Linked DNA regions of Homo sapiens: region 2 is linked to region 1. The links come from fine-mapping of genetic effects on gene expression. Tissue or cell type: whole blood. Region 1 holds a variant in brackets; the other region holds the start of a gene. All regions are shown on one strand. Distances are from middle to middle.

Evidence for each region. PIP is the estimated chance that this variant, and not a neighbour inherited with it, causes the effect.
Region 2: PLIN2 starts here. The variant in region 1 is fine-mapped to the expression of PLIN2 in whole blood (TOPMed, PIP above 0.99).

Annotation. Positions count from the first base shown.
Region 1 is chr9:19,182,134-19,186,622 of GRCh38, forward strand. No RefSeq gene overlaps it. Among named protein-coding and RNA genes, the nearest start is that of DENND4C, 46 kb to the right of the region's middle. RefSeq lists enhancers at 2,343-2,392, 4,371-4,489. The variant A/C (reference allele first, on the strand shown) is at 2,353.
Region 2 is chr9:19,125,864-19,130,068 of GRCh38, forward strand. PLIN2 (perilipin 2) reads right to left here and starts at 1,629. Exons shown (of 8, transcript NM_001122.4): 1 at 1,556-1,629; 2 at 534-585; 3 at 251-446. The coding sequence starts at 563. RefSeq lists enhancers at 875-1,385, 1,386-1,895 and a silencer at 1,408-1,967.

The sequences.
Region 1 (4,489 bases):
CCCGAGTAGCTGGGATTACAGGTGCATGCCACCACACCCAGTTAATTTTTTTGTATTTTTAGTAGAGATGGGGTTTCACCATGTTGGCCAGACTGTTCTCGAACTCCTGACCTGAGGCAATCCACCTGCCTCAGCCTCCCAAAGTGTTGGGATTACAGGCATTAGCCACCATGGCCTCCTTAATTCTTTTCTGCCAAAAGTCAAGAACCCTTATGGCCTCCTGGGCTGATCCCCAGTTTGGGGAGTTGCCCTGTGACAGTTAGAGAACCCAGATGTCTTTATATTGTAAAATTACTTTAGGTCTTTGTGCCGACAGTTTGAAGACAGCTGTCAAAGGGGACTTCTAGCTCTGGGCTCCAGTACATTAAATAAGAAATATCCTGATGTACCCCCAGATCAACCTGCATTAGAATCACTGTAGGTATTTTTACAAATATAGGTTCTGAGGCCCCACCGCATACCCACTTAATTAGAATGGGGAGAAGGGGAGTCTGTGGTTTTACCAAGCTTTGTGAATGATTTTTAAGCATTCTGCTGCATTGCTTTCTAAACCCAGGCCTGTTTCCCACACTACTGTAATCAAGAGGGAACACTGAAGTTTCCTCAGTTCCTTCCTGTTTTTTCCTGTTTCCTTCTGCAGTGACCAACACTATCAGAAATGGCATTTTGGCAGGGACAGGGAGTACAGGAATGGAAACAGGAAAGGCATAAACAAGACTCCTCCTCTGCCCCAGGACTCTCTCCTGTGGGTCACATTACCAGTGAAGGCTTGTGAACTCTGATTTAGCTAAGTTAATTTTGTGCAAAAAAATAAATTTTGGCCCGGTGCGGTGGCTCACACCTGTAATCCCAGCACTTTGGGAGGCCGAGGCAGGTGGATCATGAGGTTAGTTCAAGACCAGCCTGTCCAAGATGGTGAAACCCTGTCTCTACTAAAAATACACGCAAAAAATTAGCCAGCGTGGTGGTGGGCGCCTGTAACCCCAGCTACTCGGGAGGCTGAGGCAGGAAAATTGCTTGAACCCAGGAGCTGGAGGTTGCAGTAAGCCGAGATCACGCCACTGCACTCCAGCCTGGGCCACAGAGAGGGACTCCATCTCAAAAAAAAAAAAAAAAAAAGAATTCTGGGGAGTTGTAGTGCTTGTTAAAAACAGATTCCGGGCCGGGCGCAGTGGCTCACGCCTGTAATCCCACCACTTTGGGAGGCCGAGGTGGGTGGATCACAAGGTCAGGAGTTCAAGGCCAGCCTGACCAAGATGGTGAAACCCCATGTCTACTAAAAATACAAAAATTAGCTGGGTGTGGTGGCGGGTGCCAGTAATCCCAGCTATTCGGGAGGCTGAGGCAGATAATTGCTTGAACCCTGGAGGCGGAGGTTGCCAGTAAGCCAAGATTGCACCATTGCACTCCAGCCTGGGCAATAGAGGGAGACTTCATCTCAAAAAAAAAAAACACAGATTACAAGGTCCTTTAGTAGAGATGATGATACCTTAATCTAGATGATTCAAATGTAGGTAGCTCTCAGAACACACTTTGGAGAACAATGACTTAAATCCAGTGAAGAAAATCTCCAAGAAGCTGTGACAATATGTGGTCTCTTGAAATCTAGAGATTGGTGCTACATGTGATGGCTCACCCCTGTAATCCTAGCATTATGGGAGGCCAAGGCGGGTGGATCACTTGAGATCAGGAGTTGAGACCAGCCTGGCCAATATGGTGAAACCCCATCTCTACCAAAAATACAAAAATTAGCCAGGTGTGATGGCGCGTGCCTGTAATCCCAGCTACTTGGGAGGCTGAGGCAGGAGAATCGCTTGAACCCAGGAGTGGGAGGTTGCAGTGAGCTGAGATCGTGCCACTGCCCCTCAGCCTGCACTGAGCTAGACTCCATCACAGAAAGAAATCTAGAGATTAGCTACTGAATATTGACAGCTTTATCTTCCCAACTAGCAAAACGATCCCTGCTAGAAGGAACAGATTCATTTTGGAAAAAGTATTCAGTAATCTCTGAAGCACAGAAACATTTTTTTCATTCTTGCTATGCAAACAGATTGTTGGCCTTCTTCAGTGAGGCAGGCCAGGACAAAATCTCAGCAGGCCCTTTCGACAGCATTTCTCCACAAATCAAATTAGGTCAAAGAGAAAATTCAGAGCAGTCTGAGGAAGGGAAAAAAAAAGCCCTGAAATGTGTTATAAAACTGGTGGGCAGGGGACAGGGGAACATCCCACCTACTTTGTTTGCTCTGGTAAAGGCTGGTGGCTTGTCACATGAACCCCAGGCCTTCCTGTTCTCGGCAGCTGCCTTCTGAGTCACTGTGGGCTGCAGGGGAGGGCCCCCTAACATCAGGGAAC[A/C]TAACAACCATATGACTCTTAGGTGAGGCCACTGCGCCAGGCCAATTCAAAAATTAAAGAGCGACTACATTGCCGATTTTCATTTATTTTAAGAACTTCTTTACTCCGTTTTTGTCTACAACTGCAAATTAGCAGAAGACAAAAAACAAACTAGTAAGTGGAATTCACATCTGGTAAGTGAGAACTGGTGCCAGTCCTATTAGTCACCAAGATCACTTAAGGGTGGAGTGCACTAGCAGGATAAAACATTAAACCAAAAGCAATACTTCCTTGTAACAGCTGGAGTTTCCTAAGAAATTTTTAAAATAAAAACCTAGAATGCCTAGCAGGCAAAATACCATAGTTAGAAAAGTCAACCTTTACTTTTCTCTTTTGATTGTAGTCAACTGTTGCATAATTTTTTTTTTTTTAGGCAGAGTCTTGTTCTGTCGTCCCAGCTGGAGTGCAGTTCACTGCAACCTTCGCCTCCTGGGTTCAAGTGATTCTCCTGCCTCAGCCTCCCCAGTAGCTGGGACTACAGGAGTATGCCACCAGGCCCAGCTAATTTTTTTTTTTTTTGTATTTTTAGTAGAGACAGGGTTTCTCCATGTTGGCTAGGCTGGTCTCGAACTCATGAACTTGGATCATCCACCTGCCTTGGCCTCCCAAAGTGCTGTGATTACAGGCGTGAGCCACCGCGCCTGGCCTGTTGCAGAATGTTGCTGGGTATATTATATTATACTATGTGAATTAAGAATTCTCTATTAAACAGTTTTAAGTTGTAAGAAAGCCACCCTAAGTTTAAAACTTTCAGTCTTTTAAAACTGATGCATTAAAGAACTACTCCAAATAAGAGAAACAACACTGAGGTGTGATTCATTTGAACTTGAGTCCCGGTTCCTTAACCCAATGCCTGGATGCTAGAGATGTTCAATAAAGACTTAATGACTGCATAACCAACTTATTAGCTGTAGAATAGTTATAATAATTAACTTCCTTGAGCCTTTGTTTTCTCTTCTGTGATCAGGGAAGAAACCTCTTCTGTCTACCTCAGAGAATTTTTGTAAGGATCAAATAAAATAATGTGTGTTTAAGTTTTGATTTCTTTCTTTTTTCTTTTTTTTTGAGATGGAGTTTTGCTCTTGTAATCCAGGCTGGAGTGCAGTGTGGTATGATCTCTGCTCACTGCAACCTCTGCCTCTGGGGTTCAAGCGATTCTCCTGCCTCAGTCTCCCGAGTAGCTGGGGTTACAAGTGTCCACTAACACGCCCGGCTAATTTTTGTATTTTTAGTAGAGATAGGGTTTCACCATATTGGCCATGCTGGTCTTGAACTCCTGACCTCAGGTGATACGCCTGCCTCGGCCTCCCAAAGTGCTGGGATTACATATACAACCTTTTTTTAAAAAAAAATTATTTTTATTTTTATTTTTATTTTTTGAGACAGAGTCTCGCTATGTCACCCAGGCTGGAGTACAGTGGGGCAGTCTTGGCTCACTGCAACCTCCGCCTCCCTGGTTCAAGCGATTCTTGTGCCTCAGCCTCCCAAGTAGCTGGGATTACAGATGTGAACCACCACACCAACTAATTTTTGTCTTTTTAGTAGAGACGGGGTTTTGCTATGTTGGCCAGGCTGGTCTTGAACTCCTGGCCTCATGTGATCCACCCGCCTCAGCCTCCCAAAGTGCTGGGATTACAGGTGTGAGCCACTGCATCTGGCCAATACAACCTCTTTTTTGATTAGAGCTTTGAAATTGGGGTAGGTTTACTGAAAATAGAACTGTACCAGAGAATTGCATCTGAAATATGCAAAGCTCACCTGGATATCTCAATAGCATGGCAATAACCACCCTATAACCTTTTTAAAAATAAATCTCAGTGGAAGTGATGCTGAAATCTCTCCTTAAGGTCCTCTTTCTCAATCAACTATAATTCAGCAAACATTAAACTTCAGTTACCCGGAAAAAGATTAGGTAATAAATGTGTTAATCATAGACTGGATCATAATCAGCACCGTCACCTAAAGAATACTCACCCCTTAAGTAATCCAAAAGAAAACTAAGAAGCAAAAATCCAGGGTTTGTTTCTCTATAACCAAAATAGAAGAATGTCCATAGTCATTACTGAGCATTAACCATTTGAAGATCTCCTTCCTTTTA
Region 2 (4,205 bases), 56 kb before region 1:
AGTGAGCCAAGACTGCGCCACTGAACTCCAGCCTGAGTGATAGAGTGAGACTCCATCTCAAAAAAAAAAAAAAAGGAAAGAAAAGAAAAGAAACAGTCCTCTTACGGTAATGAGGGTCACCTGAAAGTTTCTAGGTAAAGGCAGTGTATGCCCCAGGAAGGGCTGAGGAGTTCCAGATGTTACTGCTGTGAGCTCAGGGGCTCGCCACTGACCAGTCCCTTGACTTGCATCTTGAAAAATCAGAACTCACTTTGCGGCTCTAGCTTCTGGATGATGGGCAGAGCACTGGTCATGGCCACGGAGGTGATGGTCTTCACACCGTTCTCTGCCATCTCACACACAGACTTCAGGTAGGGATACTGGTCCTTTGTACTGAGATAGGCTGAGGACATGAGGTCATACGTGGAGCTCACCAAGGGCAGGTTGACCACCCGAGTCACCACACTCTGCAATCAAAGTAGGGAGGGTATGCTTATTAATCTCTCAAAACACAAAAGGAGAGAAAGTAGACAAAGGCTACTCAAAATTCATACCGGTTGTGGATCAACTGCAACGGATGCCATTTTTCTTCCTGGAGAAAGAAATCTGCAGAAAAGAGACTTATTTCAGAACACCGGGATAAGACTCTCCCAAATTCATTCCCCAACCCAAGCAAATGCTGATTACAAGTAGAGAAAAATGCAGGGTGAGCTCCCTGTAGTCTTCTGCACTTCTTTCCTCTCTCCAGCTCTCCAGGTCCCCCTCCTGAAAGACCCACACCCACACAACCCCACTCCCTCTTTTGAGGCAAAGTTTCAGAGCTTATGTGTAAACTTGCAATACTCAGGAGGGAGAAGTAAAGTTGTTGACATACTTCTCTTGTTTCTCCGAGTATCTGTTAACAAAAATGCTAGCCAAGCCGGACGCGGTGGCTCACGCCTGTAATCCCAGCACTTTGGGAGGCCGAGGGGGGTGGACTGCTTGATGTCAGGAGTTCAAGACCAGCCTGACCAACGTGGTGAAACCCCGTCTCTTCTAAAAATACAAAAATTAGCCGGGCGTGGTGGCGGGCGCCTGTTATCCCAGCTGCTCTGGAGGCTGAGGCAGGAGAATCGCTTGAACCCGGGAGGCGGAGGTTGCAGTGAGCCTAGATGGCGTCACTGCACTCCAGCCTGGGCGACAGAGCGAGACTCCGTCAAAAAAAAAATGCGGTTTTCTAACGCGTTTCCCTTTCGATAATGTCCCTTCGACAAATATTGTTTTCCCACAACCACCCAAGCAGGCCAAGGGACATTCGATAGCAATCGCCCTAAATCTGTTGGCAGGAAAGAAGCCTCAACGCACAAAGGCAAGGGTCGAAAGCGCGGGTTCAGCAGACCGCCCCTACCCAGCCAGGACCTGGAAGCCGCGAGGCGAGCGGGGGGTCTCGGACCATCACCCCCGCGTCCCGTCCACCTTTGAGCCCCGCGGGGAGCAGAGCAGCGGTCCCAAGGCCCCGGGGAGCCCCCCACCCCAACTGGGCGCCGCTGGGGGCCCGGGACCGGTTCGCTGGGGCACCCACTGGGCGCGCACTCACCGACGGACTGCAGCGAAAGGCGAAGAGCAGGCGCGTCCCGAAGACGACTCCGGCTGCCACGACCCGGTCAAAGCGTGGGGCCCGCGGGCGCCCGGGCTATAAACCCCGCCTCGCCGCCCCTCCCCAAGCCTCCGCAGCACGTGACCCGCGGCAGCACGCCCTGTCCCAAGCCCGAGTGTCACCCTCGGGCACGTCCCGGCGCCCTCCCCCAACGCCGGCCCTCCTAGAGTGGTGGGGGCCCGGTCGGGTTGAGAGGGTGTGCTGCCTGGGCGAGGGGCCCCGCCACGGGGAGAGGAGCCTGTCGGGAGCCGGGCGGGGGCCCGGCCTGGGGAGGCTGGGAGTTGGAGGTAGCCCTGCCTGGAGTCGGGGCGCTGCCTGGAGTCGGGGCGCTGCCTGTGGTCGGGGTCCTGCCTGTGGTCGGGGTCCTGAGAGGCCCGGGGCAAATGGGGATGGCGCCCAGGCCGGCTTTGGGGTTTTGAAAAATGCAAACAAATTCACACCAACTTGTTGAACGGCGTTAGTCCTCAGAATAGAACTCTAAAAATGGAAGCGGTGGCTCACGCCTGTAATCACAACACTTTGGGATGCTGAGGCGAGAGGATCTGTCGAGCCTAGGAGTTCGAGACCAGCCTGGCGAAGATTTTTATTTTATTTTAAAAAATAGCCCAGCGTGGTGTCGTGCGCCTGTGGCCCCAGCTACCTGCGAGGCTAAGATGGGAGGATCGCTTGAGCCTGGGAGGTCGAGGCTGCAGTGAGCCGAGATCGCGTGGCGCTGCACAATGGCTTCTACGCTGTTATTTTTAGCGAAGTAATAACTTTTAAAAGTTTTGTGGCGGCTGGGCGCGGTGGCTCACGCCTGTAATCCTAGCACTTTGGGAGGCCGAGGCGAGCGAATCACCAGCCTGGCCAACATGGCGAAACCCCGTCTCTCTCAAAATACAAAGAAAGCAGCCCAGCGTGGTGGCGCGCGCCTGTAGTCCCAGCTAGTCCCGGCTGTTTAGCGGGGTTGGGGGCAGGCGGGTGGGTGGCTGAGGTGAAAGAATCTTTTGAGCCCAGGTGGTCGAGGCTGCAATGAGTCGAGATCGCGCCACTGTACCACTGCACCCCAGCCTGAGTGACTGAGACCCTGTCTAAAAAAAAAAAAAGAAAAGAAAAAAGAAAAAGAAAACAAAAAACTTAACTCCAGATCACTCCAGAATGACAGCTGCCTAGGGTTATGTGACATAGGCAACTTTATACGTGCAGGGTTATGCATTGTTTTTCAAAGACAACTTAAAACGTCATCTGAGTCCCAGTTGTGTTTTTTTGTTGTTGTTGTTTTGTTTGTTTGTTTCTTGTGTAAAACGCACAGATTTGGAACGAGATTATTTGAGCAGACAAGTTGCGCCAGCGCCCGAGGCCAGATAGGGCTCGTGGGACTTCTTCCCCCGTGAGTGGCGGGGGATTTCCAGATGAAGCTGTCCGGCCTCGGCCCCCACTCCCCCCCCCCGGCCCCCGACACAGCTCGCAGGGAGGATACAGCAGAGAGGAGGGTTGGGAGGTGGGAAGGGAGCAGGCGCTGGCGCCGCGGGTCCGCCCCCTGAGAGGCCCACAGCGTTGGAGTCCCTGGCTCCAGCCAGGAGGGACTGGCTTTGTGAAGCTTTGGAGTTGTAACTGTAGGAAGCTCTCAGAGACTTTTACCCCAATTTGTTTTCATTTTCTGTTGTTGTTGTTGTTGTTGTTGTTTTTTGAGACGGAGTCTCGCTCTGTCGCCAGGCTGGAGTGCAGTGGCGCGATCTTGGCTCACTGCAACCCCAGCCTCCCGGGTTCAAGTGATTCTCTTGCCTCAGCCTCCCGAGTAGCTGGGACTACAAGCGCGGGCCACCACGCCCAGCTAATTTTTGTATTTTTAGTAGAGACGGGGTTTCACCATGTTGGCCAGGATGGTCTCGATCGCTTGACCTCGTGATCCGCCCGCCTTGGCCTCCCAAAGTGCTGGGATTACAGGCGTGAGCCACCGCACTCGGTCTAACCCAGTTTCTTAACCAATCTTGCATGCACACAGATACTGTTGATCATATTTAAAGCTCCAAACGGACCCATTAAAATGGTATCCCTTATCCCATTATACCTGAATATATAATAGTACTTACTTAGCAAGAAAAATTAAAGTATTTTTACCCCTCCTCCCCACATGTAATTCAAAATAAAATACTAAGCCATAAATACTGAACCATAAAATGTTATGAAGTCCAAAAATGTTCTGGTTTGGGTTTTTTCCTATGTTGCCATCTTCAGTGTTTTAAGTAATTAAATTATTATGTTTTTCTTTTCTTTTTCGTGTTCCGGCGCTGTTTGTTCCCTAAGCAAATGTTTGCTCTGCTTATTGATAATCCATCCCTGCTCTAATGACCTCTTACTTTGCATCAGAAGACTCTCGCCCTTTCACCTACAAAATGCCTCCATCTTTTCCTTTTTTGTTTTAAACCTGTGAGTCATTTCCTCACTTAAGGCTGAGCAAGCTTCTTTTTGCTTTTATTTGCCTGTGAAGCAGAGGGCCCCAGGGAATAATTTTGGGAACAAGAGACTCTTCAAGCCCACAAAGGATGAAGCACATCAAATTCTGCATCCCCAACTGTTTTTCAGCTTCGTGAGTCTGAGAACATGAAAC